Regions from separate parts of the Homo sapiens genome. Here region 2 is linked to region 1. The links come from fine-mapping of genetic effects on gene expression. Tissue or cell type: fibroblasts. Region 1 holds a variant in brackets; the other region holds the start of a gene. All regions are shown on one strand. Distances are between the middles of the regions.

What was found. PIP is the estimated chance that this variant, and not a neighbour inherited with it, causes the effect.
Region 2: PAX9 starts here. The variant in region 1 is fine-mapped to the expression of PAX9 in fibroblasts (GTEx, PIP 0.90).

Annotation. Positions count from the first base shown.
Region 1 is chr14:36,949,705-36,957,808 of GRCh38, reverse strand. The region is part of intron 1 of SLC25A21 (solute carrier family 25 member 21); the gene reads left to right. It overlaps MIR4503 (microRNA 4503), which reads left to right and starts at 5,418; the gene lies at 5,418-5,500. The variant A/G (reference allele first, on the strand shown) is at 4,986.
Region 2 is chr14:36,656,820-36,664,923 of GRCh38, reverse strand. PAX9 (paired box 9) reads right to left here and starts at 3,064. Exons shown (of 4, transcript NM_001372076.1): 1 at 2,831-3,064; 2 at 1,401-2,027. The coding sequence starts at 2,834. It overlaps LOC105370455 (a long non-coding RNA gene), which reads left to right and starts at 6,175. Exons shown (of 2, transcript XR_943758.3): 1 at 6,175-6,380. RefSeq lists enhancers at 1,064-1,574, 1,575-2,084, 2,085-2,596, 8,027-8,104, a cis regulatory region at 3,361-3,873 and a promoter at 3,133-4,330.

The DNA of each region.
Region 1 (8,104 bases):
CTATTCTAATGCTAATTATTAAGTGGACATAGTGAGTTACATTGAAAGGGAAATCATGTAGCATCCACTTTTTTCTCATCAAAAATATTGCTGTTTCAATGCACTATTTACACCAGCGGCTGCATTTGAAATCCTCATCAGTCAAATTTTGTTTAGGCAATGTGATTGATTTCTCAAATGTGGGGATTTTATGTCATTTTCATTGCAGTTGATGAAAGATGCTTTCTAACTTGGTGCTTGTCTGAGGAGAGGACTGTAAAGTCATAGAACTGTGAAGCAGAAAGGATCTATGGGGATCAACTGAGGTACCCCGTCCTACTCCCAACCCACTTATGTTATAGATGAGGACACTGAGATCCAGAGAGCTGAATTTCCTTATCCAAAGTCACACAGCACATTAATGGGCAAGCCAGGACTGGAACTCAGGGTTCCAGCTGCATTCAGCCTGTTTCACCCTAGCATCAGCTCTGAACGCTTTTCCCAGGCATCCCAGTGAATGCTGATTAAGGCCGCTCTTCCTCCCTAGGGTCTTCCTGGGTTTGCATTGCCCCTTCCTTGAGTCTCTGGATCTTTGCTAGCAGCTGCACCAGGCCCAGGAATGAGAGAGAAATGGGAAGTGGAGGAAAGAAGGGCAGGGGGAAAATGACTTTGGAAGAGTAACCTGTGTCTCTAAAGTAATGAGGTGGACTTTCTTTTGTGACCCACAACATTTCTATGATGCTCATAGACAAGAACCAAATACACTTTGGCAACAAATAGCATCGTTAGAATCTGCAATCAGCTTTTCAGTGTTGTGCCATTGAAAAACAATATGCATTTGGACGAAAAGCTCTGGTTTTATTCATTTCTGTGCATATAGATAGATGAATTTGAAGTACCTAGGAATTTTGGGCTTTTTTGAATTATTTGTACATACTTCTTTATCATCATGGCCAATCCACATGACATGATGTATAAATGAATGTATCTCTTTTTGTCATACTGAAACATAATTGCTAGATGATAAAACATTTAGCACAAACATTTCATAAAATCAAATTTCAGTTCTGTTTTTTTTCCTTCAGCTTTGATGGATATCCCCATTATTCGTAAGTTAATTCTGCAGAGATTCTTAGAGGAACTGATAAATATTGATAAAAGTGGTTTGAAGTTCCATGTATCTAAAAATGAACCTAATCTCTCTCCAGCTATTTAAAGTAGATATGTGATAAATACTCTCTTTGTCAAAAAAAATAAACGAATGAATGAATGAGCAAATGCTAGGGAGCTAAGAATGGCTGATTAAATTAACAGAGATTGGGCTGCTTTTTAGAAAAAACATTCCACCACATTGGCCTGATGTTATTTGGTATACACAGTAAGGTACAGTATGCATTACTAACCTCATTAAGTTCCAAATAAAACTCTATACTTTACACCATTTCTACGAGAGGTTTTATTAGATTTCCTTAACTGGTGTCATGTTTTTTGGTCAGGGCATTTTTAACCAGCTTCACATAAATAAAGTTCTATTTTGTCACCATGTCATAGTAAAATAAACTGCGTGTACTATGCATCTCTGCCAAAGCCAGAGCAGACGGGGAAAGGATATAAATGTGTCAGTATTCGGGGAGAGAAAACACATAAATGCACATGGCGACTCTCTTAACTCCGAGGCTCAGCGTGATGCTAATTCATTTGGGTGACATTTAGAAAGCTACTCCCAACATAAATAATACGTATATAGTGGGGGGTATCTCTGACAGACACAAAGTTGAAAAAAATGGCCTGAAAGAATGCACATCAGATTTTACAGGTGCTCAGAACATTAATGTACAGTGATGGATGACCTACTTGCTGAAGGTTGACATAATGTTGAATGGAATGTTTTGTTTATATCTGGTACCAAGTTTATTGACCAGCACCAAAGGGTAGGACCAAGCTGGGATTTGAACAGTCCCTACTTTTTGTATGTGTATGTGTGGAAACTGTTTTCTATGTCCCACCTCCTCACAGGCAACAGTTCTTAAGTTGTTTCACAGATATCATTCCACAAGATGAATTACTCTCTTCAATGAAAAAACAAAAAACAAAAAAAAACAACCTTAGGCCTATGTATTCCTTACCAGAGGTGCAAATCTTGATGTGTAGATGTGAAAAATCAAGAGAGGGGCTTTTACCACATTTATCATACATCTTTAATCTTGGTTTGTCATCTCTAATGTGCCTGCAGTTAAAATCTTCATGACTAATGGTGAGTTGCTACTAGCAGTGCCTGTGGCTAAAAAAAAATCAGAAAATCCAGAAATATAAGAGACCAACAAGTCAAGTAGGCCATCTAAATGACAGGATAGACTTGTCCCCAAGTGTCCTTTCCAGTATGAATAAAAAGAGTTATAACAAAAAATAGGAAAACTTTTGGTATCAGTCCAAGTGATAATTTTCTTTCATTACTAAGTGGGAAATTATCACAGTACAAAAGTAATCCTTTGGGAAAATCTTCCAAGTACTTAGCATAAATTCTTTCTTTCATAATGTCAGCCATTATACCTAGTTATTATAACCTCTTGAGCAATGGAGTGCATTCTTCTTTTTTGATGATTATACCATTCAAGTGAATTTTACCATGTCCATCTTTAGTTATTTTTAGTTTGTTTGCCCATTCATTCTTTCATTTACTCACCCACTTAACAAGCATTTATTGAATGTCTACACTAGGCCAGGTTTTGAGGAAGGTACAAAGACACATCAGACAGATAACTTTCAGATGGCTTCAAAAGTAGAGTGGAGAAAAAACATGCAAAAACTCCCCAAATATGAAGTAGAAAGTGGCTCATGTCCTTAGAAAGTTATATATAGGGTTGGGAGGTACATATGCAGAAGTAATCATTGGTTCTAGCTGGATGGCTCTGGCTAAACATCCTAGGAGTGGCAATATTTGAGCTGGGCCTTAAAGGATGCCTAGAATTTGTGCCTCCCTTAAATAGGTGGAAGTAGAGGGAAGTCATTGCAGGTACAAAGAAAATGAAGAAAGGTAGAGGAAGGAAAGGAAAGGACAAGTGGAGGAATCAGAAAATAATGGAATGGCTCAATCGAGCTAGTTAACATTTGCATTAGCCCACATATTTATCATTTTTTTGTGTGGTGACAATACTTAAAATCTACTCTCGTAGCGATTTTGAAAATACAATACATTGTTATTTACTATAGTTACCATGCTGAACAATAGATCTGGACTATTTCAGAACATCATATTATACATGATACATATATATGAATTTTATGTGTCAATTAAAAATATAATTCCAATTAAATATATATTATTTCTTATATATATATATGTATGTATGTGTTTTCCTTATAAAGAAAATAATGGAAACCTAAGTTGGGGTCAGATCAGCAAGGACGTTGGGAAGTCAAGCTAGAGATTTCAGGCCTTCCTCTGTAGTTAGTAAGGAGAAATGGAAAGTCTTTAGCAGACGAGGATTATGCTAAGGAGGACTTCTCTAGGATGGGGGGAGGATAAAGACAACAAAGGTGGAGAGGCCAGTTGGGAGGTCCTGATGAGAGGGAGAGAATTCCGTAAAAGGGTGTGGAGAAGAAACATGAGGCAGAAATTACAAAGGACAATCAGAGACATTTTTTACTGGGGATGATGCATCAAGATTGACTTTCAGGTTTCAGCTGAGTGACTATGATAATTAATAAAAATGAGAGCAGGTTTAGAAGAGATGGGACGATCAGTTTGGTTGTGGCCACCAGTATGATAGTCTGGTTCTACAGAATCATGTTGTATTCACCTTTGACTCTCCAGTTTCTAATACATTGTAGATGTCAAATAAAGTCAGAATGTTATTGAAAAAACTAATTATTCCATGTGAAGATGTCCAGTAGGCAGTTGGAAAACCAAGCTATTTACAATTTTTTTCCCTTCAGAGTGTCTGGCACATAATATACACTTAAGCATGTATTAAATATCTAATAAATTTAATATTTCTTAACCACAAGAGTGTCTAAAATGCCTATGTGGTAAGTATTTTTGAAGAAATTCCTCTATTGTGATGATAATTTCCGAAGTGACAGATTTATACTCTGTCTTTCCAATTAATAGCAAATGTAGTATTTGAAATACTGTTTATGGTCTTATGCTGAAAAAATTTTTATGTTGAAAAACTTTGTGCCAAAATGAGTTTCTGCCAGTAAGGAACACTAACTTTTAGCCATTTGTTTGCGATATGAAATAAAGAAAATTATCTAAGAATTTTTACCTCTGTTCATTTTGTCATCTACTGAATGTTAACCTACATTGTGCAGGGATTCATATTTTTTTCAGTTTTGAGCTAACCACTTATAAACTTCACAATCGTGTTTTGTTCTGTTTTGACTTTTTCTTTGTATTTTGTATTTCTGACTATATATGCTATCTATATGACTATATAGTGAGATGTATGACTAAATTTTATTAATATCATCTGTTTATGCCATCTTTATGTTATAAACAATGTGAATCTTTTGGGCTACATAGAAAAATATTAGTATGAGCTTTGTTATTTAGCTCAGCCTGCCATTTACACAAAGCAGCCCAAAAATATCTTGCTATATTTATATGAAATTCAAAAGTTGATGATTAAGAAACATTTTAAAGTTCAAGCACATTGCTGATTAGTAATAGCTTATAGTACATCTTGTTATCGTTAACTAAATATTTTCTGATATTCAACCCTTGATAACCAAAAGCAGTGTTTAGACATGGACCATAATACAGGCAATTGATACCTCAAAACTAAATAGATAGAGGCAGAGGTAGAATAGCAAAATGATAAAAATCAAATTCCACAACACCACTGAAGGATCCAGAGAACACTGGATAGCCACAGCTTGATGATAGATGAGTAACCAGATCTAAATGCTCTGTAAATAGCCCGTCATTTGAGAGAAGTCTTCTTGAATATCCCGTTCTTCATTCCTGAAACATGACAACTTGGGAACCAAACCCAAGCTACAGA[A/G]GGTGTAGTCTTTTTGCCCAAGGCCACACCCTTGCTGACTGGATAAAAATGGGACCCTTGTATTTGGGGATTTATTGTCACAACGCTAAGGAATCACTGTTTTTGTTTTGTCTTGTTTTTACCCTTAGTTATTTTATCATGGCATTCCCAAGAATTGTCAGTTTAAACCCCAAGGATCTGGAAAATGGTGGGACTTTTTTTAAGTCTAGACTTATTCGGTCTACAGTTTGTTTCTAATACAATGTCATTTGTCCTTGCTCAGGATGAGACTCCTACATTTAGTGACCATTTACATGTGATAGTATAGTAATAAAATTAAGAAAAGAATTCTACCTTTTAAGAAACTTATCAACAGAAACAATAGACATGTAAATATAAGAATCTTTAAGAACAAGAAATAATAAATGACTTCCTCCCCACAAATTGAAATTGACAATGTAGATATTTAAGCAGGAAATAGAATTTACATATAAATTTCTATTTGTTTCTATTTCCTGCTTAAATATCTACATTGCCAAAAACCAAAGGAAAGAAGACAATCATTTATTTATTCTACTCTGATTCTTTCTTTTTTCTTTCTTTCTTTTCTTTTTGAGATGGAATCTTGCTCTATTGCCCAGGCTGGAGTGCAGTGGCGCAATCTCGGCTCACTGCACCTCCACCTCCTAGGCTCAGGTGATTCTCCTGCCTCAGCCTGTGAGTAGCTGGGATTACAGGCACGCACCACCATGCCCAGTTAATTTTGTATTTTTAGTAGAGATGGGGTTTCATCATGTTGGCCAGGCTGGTCTTGAACTTCTGACCTAAGTGATCTGCCCTCCTTGGCCTCCCAAAGTGCTGGGATTACAGGCATGAGCCACTGCACCCTGCCTGATTCTCTTTTATTGGCCCAAGTTTACTCTGCTTTCATTGTACCTGAAGCAAGACTACCTGAAGCATGGGCAAAAATGAAGTCATTGCAGGAGTCCTCTACTTGTAGTATATGTAACCAGCGAATCATTTTGTGGGCTTTCAGAATGCAGGGTCTTAGCAGTTGTGATCTCTGGATAACCTAGAAGCCTGTATTAGAAGCTCTGAATTGATTCTGTGTTGTTTGTGTGTAGAATTGTGCAATATTTCCACCAGCCAGGCCTAGACTGGATCATCTTAATAGTTATTGAATTGCTTTAGTACTATTATTTTAAATTATTTGTTGATGCTTTTGCAAAACAATTCTTTGCAAAAAAAAAATGCATACCTTGCACAAATATTTAGACATAAGGACTTTGTTGAATGGACGTGTCTGTGGATAAGAGAGGCCCTATTTGTTTTATTTGCTCCAGCAACATGGCTAGAATAATCAAGGTCTGTTCATTGGTTTGTAAGGGGTTTGGCTTTGAGATGCAGAGAGTTCAATAATTTAGAGACAGTGCTGTGGAAAAAATAGTGGAAATAATATAACTAGTCAGCAATCCCTGCATTTCCTGTTTATTATTATTTTTTAACATTCTCTTTCTATTTTAAGGTATTATGTTGCTTGAATCCTCTTTCTAAACAGAATTGATTGCTTTAAAGTAGGCTATTTGGTTATAGTTTTTTTTTTTTTTTTGTAATGGCAGTAGAGAAGGCAAACTATTGTTAAACTATTGCTCTTTTTGTGTATTTTTAAAGAAGTAGTGAGTAGTTTTTGGTTAGTGGTTTAGTTACCAAAACATTGTCTCTGAAACAGATAGAGAAGACTGCCTCTAGGGTATATGACAGATGGGGTTGACTTCAGGTTGCTTTGTTTTTCTTCTGGAGAGTTAGGGGGCAGAGAGGGCTCACTGTGGTTCCTGCAGCCATTGCTGAGGAAATGGAGGGTGTAGAGCCTTGAGCTCCTGGAGAGCAGTTGTGGAGGGGAGCCTAGAATATGCATTCCTTGCTGCAATTCCAGGTTTTTCCAGAAAATGAGAGAGAGGTAAGAGGTCCAGCTGGCTCATTTCTTCAGCTAGGTATTTGCAAAACAAATAATTTGAGTATTCCCGTGCAATAAGAATGTCAGTTGGATGTTAGGTTGTGGGGAAACAAGCTGCTGACTCTGTATCAAGTAATTGATTAGCTTCATACAAGAAACTTACTCAGTATTTCCCACACTGCCCTTGAACTAGAATGCAAATTCCCAGTAGCCAGGGGCTATGTCTGTTCACCGTTTGCATCTCCTAAACATAATAGGAATTGTGAATTCATTTGCTAGGGCTGCCATAACAATATACCACAGACTGGGTGGCTTAAATAACAGAAATTTATTTTCTCTTAGTTCTAGAGGCCAAAAATCCAGGATCAAGGTGCCGGCAGGTTGGTTGCTGGTGGGACCTTTCTTCCTGGCTTGCAGATGGCAACTTTCTTGCTATGTTCTCATGTGACCTTCAGGAAGAAATATATCTTCGGTATTTCTTCCTCTTCTTATAAAGATATTAGTCCTATTGGATGAAGGTCCTTCTTACGACCCCATTTAATCTTAATTACCACCTTAACAGCCCTATCTCCAAATGTAGTCACATTAGGATTAGGATTTTAACCTATGAATTGGGGGGCACAGTTCAATCCATAACAAGCTAATCAAAGTTTATTGGATAAATAATGAACAAAATCATGGGTGTTATTCAGAAATAATATAAATGTGAAAGGTGACATGTGGTTTTATAAAGGTACCTTGCGACAAATTACATGGTTCAAGGTTTCCCAAAATATGTTCTATGGAATACTAGTCTCCTAAGATGCTCTGTCAGAACAGCATTTACAGTATTTAAATAGATTTGGAGAACTCTGCATACTACATCCCCTTCTTGGAGAGTCAGACTGTACATTACCGTTATAAAGTCTCTGATATGTACTTTGGAAAAGAATACTGTTTAATTGTATTTAACCCAGAGTTTTCTTGTACATGTTGGATGCAGAATGTGTCCAGAGCCCCTTCCCCCACCTTTTTGAAGAAACCCATTGTTGTCTATTTGCCTGCTTTGAAAAATGCTTCAACCCATACTGAAGGCTAAAAGTCTCAGAGTTGAGAAAAGCATCTCCTGTTTCCTCTGTTTTCCATTTACTGTCCCAATTCAACTCTAGACTTTTAGAAAATAGGAATCTAGAAATGGACATTAATA
Region 2 (8,104 bases), 290 kb after region 1:
TAAATCAAGGGCAAACTCTCTCCAACTATGGCTCCAAGTAGCTCCAAATAAGACAAAACTGGGCTCTTGTAAACTTGCAGTCAGAAAACAAGAAGATGAGAAATCAGAGCCCTGCTTTAATTACTTAAAAAGATAATTGTGCCAATGTGGTGGCAACCAAGAAAGGCAGGAAGTAATTAAAGAAACTATTTCCCCCTTTCCTATTTAATTTTTCCTCTACACTTTTAAAACTTTAGGCTGAGAAATTAAGAAAGTGGACTATCTACACATTATTTAAATTCTGCATCTAGGTCATTCAGACTTTCTTTTCTCCCTACCAAGAAAAAAGTTAACGCCTTAAAAAAAAAAAAAAAAACTCAGTAAAAGAAAACAAACTCAGGTCTCCTGCGGAAGCCGGACTGGGCAGGAGGGCTCGGGGAATCCTTCTGACAAGGCAGAAAGGACGCTTAGGACTAGGCAAGGTCAGGGGTGAGAAAGGAAAGAAACAGTGGGGTGGCACTGCTTAAAACATGCAGGAACTAGATAGATATCCACTTGCATTCTCGGGGACCCGGGGACCCGGGGACCCCAAAGGAAAGTGGCAGGCTCAGGGAAAACTGAAAAGAACAGTAAAAGGACAGCATGGAATTGCCTGCATTTTATCTCCATCACTGCAGTGGCTGATGCCACTTCCCTTCCTAAGATATATACAGTGAAGTCTGTTAAGTTAGAAAGTGAATGGAGAGAGAAAGAGAGAGAGAGAGAATGTGAATATGACTTCGTCTGGGAATGAGTTACATGCAAGTTACTAGTAGTAACTTCGGGACCTCCATTTCCGAGGAAAATGAAGTGAAGCATAAGAACGAAACCAATTAGGTGACATTTGAACTTCCTGCCTGAGCAAATTTGGCCTGATTACCAGAATCGGAGAATACTTCAATTTCCAAGGCGTGCTGGACTCCTCCCGGCCAGACTTCTCCCGGCCGTAGTGATCCCCAAGCAAGCTGCTCTGCCCACAGCGGAGTCTGCAGCCGGCAGCCCCAAGCAGGCTCGGGCCTCCCGGGCTGCGCCCCAAGTCCAGCCCCGGCCGCACTCTCCAAGTGAGCAAGCCGGGCTGAGGCTGCCTCGGCGCGAGAGGCGGGGGAGGGTGGAAAATGCGAACCATGTGTTGGGGATGGGGGGATGTTATGGGTCTGGTAGTTTGAGATGAGGCAGAAGACTGTGTGTGGCAAGGAAACCAGGGGCATGAGTTTCAAGTTAATGAGATCAGAACACCCCCTAGGAAGACTCCTTACGTTTCCAAAGGAAAAAGCCTCAGGTGGTGGGAAAGACAGTGTCCCTGAGGCTGCAGATACTGGGACCTCCGCGAGAGTGCGGGGGCAGACGCTGCACATCCACACGCCCAGCCTCTGAGCCCCTACCTTGGTCGGTGATGGAGCGGATGCCCAGGATGTCGGTGACGGAGTGCGAGGAGGGCCAGGTGCGCGGCATGGCCACCGAACCGGGGATGGCAGGCACCCCGGGTGGCGTGGGCACCTTGGCGGCCGCCGCCGTGATAGGGCTGGGGTACGAGTAGATGTGGTTGTAGGGCAGCGCTGGCTGCGGCGTCGGCTGGTGCTGCTTGTATGAGTCGTAATGACCCTGCTGGGCCAAGTTGCCGATCTTGTTGCGCAGAATGCGGCTGATGGAGCTCACGGAGGGCACATTGTACTTGTCGCACACGCCGTCCGCCAGCAGGCGGTCCCGGATCTCCCAGGCGAAGATGCCGGGGTCTCTCTGCTTGTAGGTCCGGATGTGTTTCACCACGGTGGGGGTAGTGACCCGGGGCTTGCTGCCCCCGATGGCTCCTGGCAAGATCGAGCCCGTCTCGTTGTATCGCGCCAGGATCTTGCTGACGCAGCCGTGCGAGACCCGTAGCTGGCGGCTGATGTCACACGGTCGGATGCCCAGTTGGGCCAGTTCCACGATGCGAAGCCGGATGGCGTTGGGCAGCGGCCTCCCGTTCACGAACACTCCTCCCAGCTGGTTCACCTCCCCGAAGGCTGGCTCTGCAAAATGAACACACAGCGCGCAGGGACGCGCACCCGCTGCTTGGGACAGCTGCCTGCCACTGGGCCTCCCTACGCATCCGGGGACTGGGCGAACGCACCCGTCCCCTACTAACTACTGGGGCTGTCCCCAAACCATATGGTCCCTGAACATAGCCGAACGGCCCCAAACCGTCACTGTCCAATCGGACCCCCTCCCTCATTCCTGCCGTGCCGGAGGCCCCTACGGCCAAGTAAAGTGGTGAGATGCCGGGCCTCTCCGAGCGTTCAAAAGTCTCCCGAAGCAGGGGGAGAAATCGGTCTTGACGCCTGAACGTGCTCCTTCTCGCCTGCTCCTCACTAAAGTCCTTGAGCCGCTCCCTCTCTCCACCCATCCCATCCCCAGCGTTCCTTCTGGAGACCCGGCCAGTTAAACAAAGTCTAGGGGAAGCTAGAGGGTGTTTTATTTGTTGTTGTTTGTTTTCTTTTCTTTTCTTTTCCTGTTTTGTTTGCATGTGTGCGCGCGTGTGAAACAAAACTTGGTTTGCTACTCGGGCTGAGGGGCTCGCTGATGCCACAGCTCCCTTCTCTTAAAATCAGAAAATGGCATCAACAGCCACCCAGTAGCCAGCGTTCACATTGAACTGCTGTGCGCCGCTGACCCTTAGCGTGTTCCTACAACTTGTAGGAACACGAGCAAAGTCAATAGAGAATGTGAGCGCCTAGTGGCGCGCGCCCTCGCGCTCCCTCCCTCCCTCCCTCCCTTGCCCGCTCGCTCCCTCCCTCCCTTCCCGGCTCTGACAGAGTCCCCCGCCGCCACTCACCCATTGCTCCGAGCAGTACACCAACCCGGCCCCAGTTCCGCACTCCCAGACAGAAACTTTCCGCACCGCCTCAGTGGCCCGGCCTGTTGCTATCCCGGCCGACCGCCGGCGCCTCCGCTTCTTCCCAGGAGGAGGAGGCGAGAGGGCAAAAGGAAGAAGTAAAAGGAAGTCTGTGCCCCGATGAAAGAGGCTTGAGTTCTGCATTTCAATCTAAGCAGCAACGTGGGCTGGGCTGAGCAGGGCAGGGCGGCTCCGTCTATCACTCACTGGGGACACGCCCTAAAAGGGGCGGGTCCGAGGGCAAGCTGCATGGTGATTGGTGCGGGTCGGTGAGCGACAGCGCAGTCCAGGAAACTCCTTCCGCTGTCTCTTTCAGGCTAGCTCCCCACCTGGGTGACTAAATACAATGAAAATGGGTGTTTGACATCTTCCCAGAAGCGGCACAAAAAGACAGCAAAATCAGGCTGGTAAAATGCTGAATAAACAAATGAAAGCGTTTGGTCTGAATGTGAATGACTCGAAGGGAGAAGGGGCCCGAGGAGACCTCCTCCGGGGAACGATGGACATCTCAGAATTGAAGTTAAGGCTATAGGTGGGAGGCGGGCGCCACCGTGCACAGGGGTGAGGGAGTTGTCTTAGCAAAATCTGTCATGCGGGCCTCTGGGGACTGTCAGGAGAGGATCTGTGTCACCTGCCGATTCTACCTCACTTCAGTCCATGCCAGGTGGCGAGAGCGCAGGTGTGAGAAGATAGGCCGGCCAAAGAAACCAGGAGGTTGCGGGGAGCCCGAGCCACAGGTGGGGGCCACTGTTAAGGCCAGGGAGGTTCCTCCTACCGCCAGCTTCCTGCGGCGACCCCCCAGTCCAGGTGGACCGGCCAACCACTAGCCACACAGGCTCGAGGCACGGGCCACGCCGTGTGCGGGGAACTGAACCACAGGCGGCTAACGCTAGCGCACAGCCCCAAGTCGACCAATTGCCAGTGCGTGGGGCACTCACTACGGAGCCCAAGGCTCTGCCACATTCAGCCACTGTCCTGGGCCCCTGGCCCTCGGTGGCAGCGTTTGTGAGGGTTCTCCAAACCAGCGAGCCCTCTCGAAAGAGTTTTGTTTAAATATGAAAGAGACTTAGTCCCAAGACAGTGGACACCGACGCTGCACATGGATGTAATTCCCTCGTCTTCCATTAAGCTCCAGAGGCCCTGTCGTTCTGCCTACTTCTGAATTTTCACTTTTATTCACTGTAAGTCTAATCTAAAGTGTACCGTATGCTTTTTTGCAGCCAAAGTTATTAATATTTGCAGTTAGGGTTGTGGAGAATGTGAATCAAAATAATAAACAAGAAGAGAAATATTTTCGTGAATTTGGGAGTTTGTACTGCTTGGGGTCGTGAACTCTGTTACTGCTACTTGACAATCCAGAAGGCTCCTTGTGCACACAGGATTCAGGCTGCTTCCCCAACAGTCCCCAGGGATGTGTGTGGCTGCGGTCTACACCCAGAGAAGCTGACTGGTCCCAGATCTCAGGTCAGTAAGTTGCAAGAACCCAGGAAAAAACTATGATCAGCCATGCTTCTGCAAAGGAACAGATCTCCAGATTCCCACTTCTATGGTTAGGATGCACTCTAAATTCAAAATTACCTAACAGAATGGAGGATGTGAAAGGTAAAGATGAACTAAAACACCACTCTTTAGAATCGGAATCTTGGGGGAAATCCCACAACTAGACATACTTGAACTTGTCCCTTTTTGTTGGTTGGTTTCAAATGTTTAAAATCTTCTTGAAGTTTGACTTGATAGCAATTTCAGCCTGGTCTGACCTCCAATACCTGTTGGGTGACATCGTGTGGCACCGCCTGGCATTTTTACACAAGGAGAGCCTTCGGAAATCTAAAGATTTTAGAAGCAGCAGCTCCTTCTTAAGGCTGGTAGATAAATTAGTTGAGACTTTGCCGCATCGTAGGGGAGCTTATGACTCTGCCTTAGGCTTGCGGGAGGGAATGAACATGCCCGGCAACTTGACCAGGAAGGAATCCTCCTCCCCCCTCACAGACAGGCAGTGAGTATCGACCTCTGCGCCAAATCTGCTCTACTTCCGTGCACCCAGGGAAAATTTGCAGTCTGCAGGGCTGCTAGGCGGGTACAAGGATGTTCGCATACGAACAGGCAAGACCTCATGTCCCGCGGGGGGTCTGGGGACTCTGCGAGAGCTTTAGCAGTTCTGCAGCACCAGCCTAGACTGGTTCAGAAACTGATATGGTTTAGAGCTCTGGTTATATGGAGGTAACATACAACTCCCTCTTGTTCCTACCAACTCCTTCAGCTGCCACACATCTTCCCAGTTCTCACATAGGTTCAATGCCATCTCTCCCTTTCCACCTGCTGAACTTGGCTGTGACCATGTGGCCTCAGCTGCTGCGGATCCCCTGGGCGTGCCAGGGGTAGCAACTCAGTGGGCAGGGGGCCTGTCCGCAGCTCTGGCGGCTCCCCGCAGGCCCCACTCATGCCGGCGGTTGCAGGTACTGGGTGCTCTTGGCATTCTCAAGAGCGCAGGAAGAGTCAATTTTAGGTGTTTTGGGCCACTAAGTATCCGCGGCAAGCCGAAGACCCCGCTCTGGGAGCAAGAGAAGCCGAAGCTGCAGACAGGGTCAGCGGGATCCCAGCAGAAGAGGGTGATGCTGAAGCCTTCCCGGGGCGCGGACCGAGTGCTAGGGCGAGGTAGTCAGCGACCCGCTGAGACCGACCGAGAGACGACGGATCTGAGGCAGAGAAAGAGGATGAAGGAAGGAAAAGAGAGAACACTAAGGTCTGGTCAGTCCCGATGAATGTAAGGATGCAGGACCTAGAACAAGAACAAGGGTCAGCTGGAGTCTGCCGCCTGGTTACACTGCTCACTCTGGACTCAGAAGATCTCAAAGAGATCGGAAGAATTTCGACTAAAAGGAGAAATTTAAGACCAAAACCAAAACACCAGTAAGGCCTGCAGCTGGCTCAGGCCAGGGAGAAGCCAAAAAGCCTTTCCCTAGCCGCGTCGAGGCCTCCTCCGAGGGGCGACTCGCTCTCTGGATAAATATTTACTCAGTGGGAGACTGGAAGCCGGGCCGAGAGTGTGAAGGAGGGGGCTACACTGGGTGGGAGGAACCAGTACACTCGGCGCTGGCCGGATCCTTGTGTACACCCGCCCAAGGGGAGCAGGGGCCGGGGACTCTGGGGGCGACTCGGCCCAGGCGTGTGGCTGGGGAAGCTTTAGACCCCAGCATCGGATCGACCGGACTCCGCCCTGCCCTCGCGGACCCCAGCCAGATGCTGTGAAGTCTCCATAAATCTGTCAGCCGTCCCAGTGCCGCGGGCAGTCACCTGCGGCGCCCCCTTCCCGGCGCTAGAGCGGCCCGCGGAGAGACGCGGAGAAGCAACGGGAATCTAGCCCGGCAGACTGTACCCGAGGGCTGCCGAAGTCAGACCCAAGCACTACAGGTTGTGCGGAACGCGAGGACCCCTCCCTGTATCCCCAACCTGGACCGACCCCCGGAAGCCTGCTCCTCCGGGTCTACAGGTCAGTGATGACTGTGGATGGGAGGATAGGGCGAGAGTTGGGGGTGCGTATGCACGGGAGAGAGGTTGTTCTATTCCGAGTTGCAGTTATGACAAGCAGAGCTAGCAGAAAATATTAAGGAGCTGATTCCTCCAACTTGCCCCCTGCTGGGGACAGGACCCCCCCCCCCCAAGCGAGGCCCAGGCGACGGTGCCCGCCTCTTGTCCACTCGGAGGAGTTGCAGGGATTGTAAGACAGCCAGAGTCCGAGGTCCGGGACTGGGATTTTCATAGTGCATTGACTTCTAGCCGTCTGGGGGCAAATGCAGTAAAGGCAAGACCCTTCAGGGTCAGTTGGGGCATTGCGCGCGGTGCAGAGAGAAAAACAAGCCCAGCTTCTCCAGAACTCGGCCCTCTGCTATGTCCCCGTCTTGCAGGGTAAGCGGCCAGCTGAGTTTCCCTGAAACTGCAGCGGCAAGTGACAGCCAGAAGCTCGCCCCGCGCCCAGGGCGAGGGAGGGTCCGCCCTGGACCGCTGGCCCCTGCAGGATCTGCGCTGCGGGAGGGGATGGCGGCTAAAAGGAGCAGTCGCGGGGATTGGGGATGGAGACAGCCCTCAGGGGTCCTCTGGTGGGAGAGGAGGACAGGAGGCGCCCGCACACTGACCTGCGGCCTGGACTTGGAGGGACTGCGGACGCGCTAGCCCAAGGAGAAGCCGCAAGCGCACGGAGAGGAGCAGAGCTCGGCCGGAAGATGCTCGGAGAATAGCCCGGCAGCCTCTCCACCTTCTCATCAAGGAGCCTCACGGTTCAAGAGTCTCTCCGCGGCTCCACTAGGTAGCTAGAATGGCAGCGGGTTGGGTCGGGCCCGAGCTCGGAAATGCGTCCCGGCGTTCTGCGGTCCGACAGCGACACGACCGGAGCCCTGCGGGAGGTGGGATCAGCCCCACGGGCTGCGAGCGCTCGTCGCCCGCTTTCTCCTTGCGAGAGCAGGGGAGGGGCCTGTTGCTGTCTGAAACCCGCTTTTAATTCTCCGCCTGCCTGTTTCCGATCACCCGGGGTTGGTTTTTCTGTTTGCTCACTCCTTCTATTACAATAAAAACAATCGACATTTCTTTTCAGTTTCCCCATATTAGCGTCACTCAGTAATTGTTCCCCACCCCCCCTTACCCCACGCGTTGAAGGCGAGCGGGATTGCTGGTATTCGCGCATTTGGAAGTTTTCCGAGCATATAAGCAAATCTTTCCTAAAGACTTTAAAGTAAAAATAAATAACGGCCCGAGAAATTGCCGTGACCCTAACATTACTTTCTGAAAGCAAATTACACCCATTTTTCAGTTTTCAACAGCGGAATTGCTTTCAGAAGGACAGTGTGGAGCTCCATGTGATATGGTTACGTTTGTTTATTAAATCTGCAAATGAAAGAGAACATGTTTTAATGCACGGGGCAAAACTCCGGGCTGCGGGATTGCAAGAGCGAACAAGGATCGGATCCCAACAGAGGAAGGGGGGAGCGGCCTAGGGGTAGGGAGGGGTAGGGAGGGGCAGGAAGGTCCCTGAGGGGAGGCTGGGCTGATCTAGCCAGAGGGAGGGGGATTTCGTCTTGCCAGGGTTGCAGCATTAGCAGAAGTTGCGCAGCTTCGTGAGGAGGACGCAGTCCGTGGTCACTATACAGCCATCAGCTGCAGCGCTCAGGAGAGGTGCAGCTGCGTGTGGGAAAAGCAAGATTGCCGGTTCTTCAAGCACAG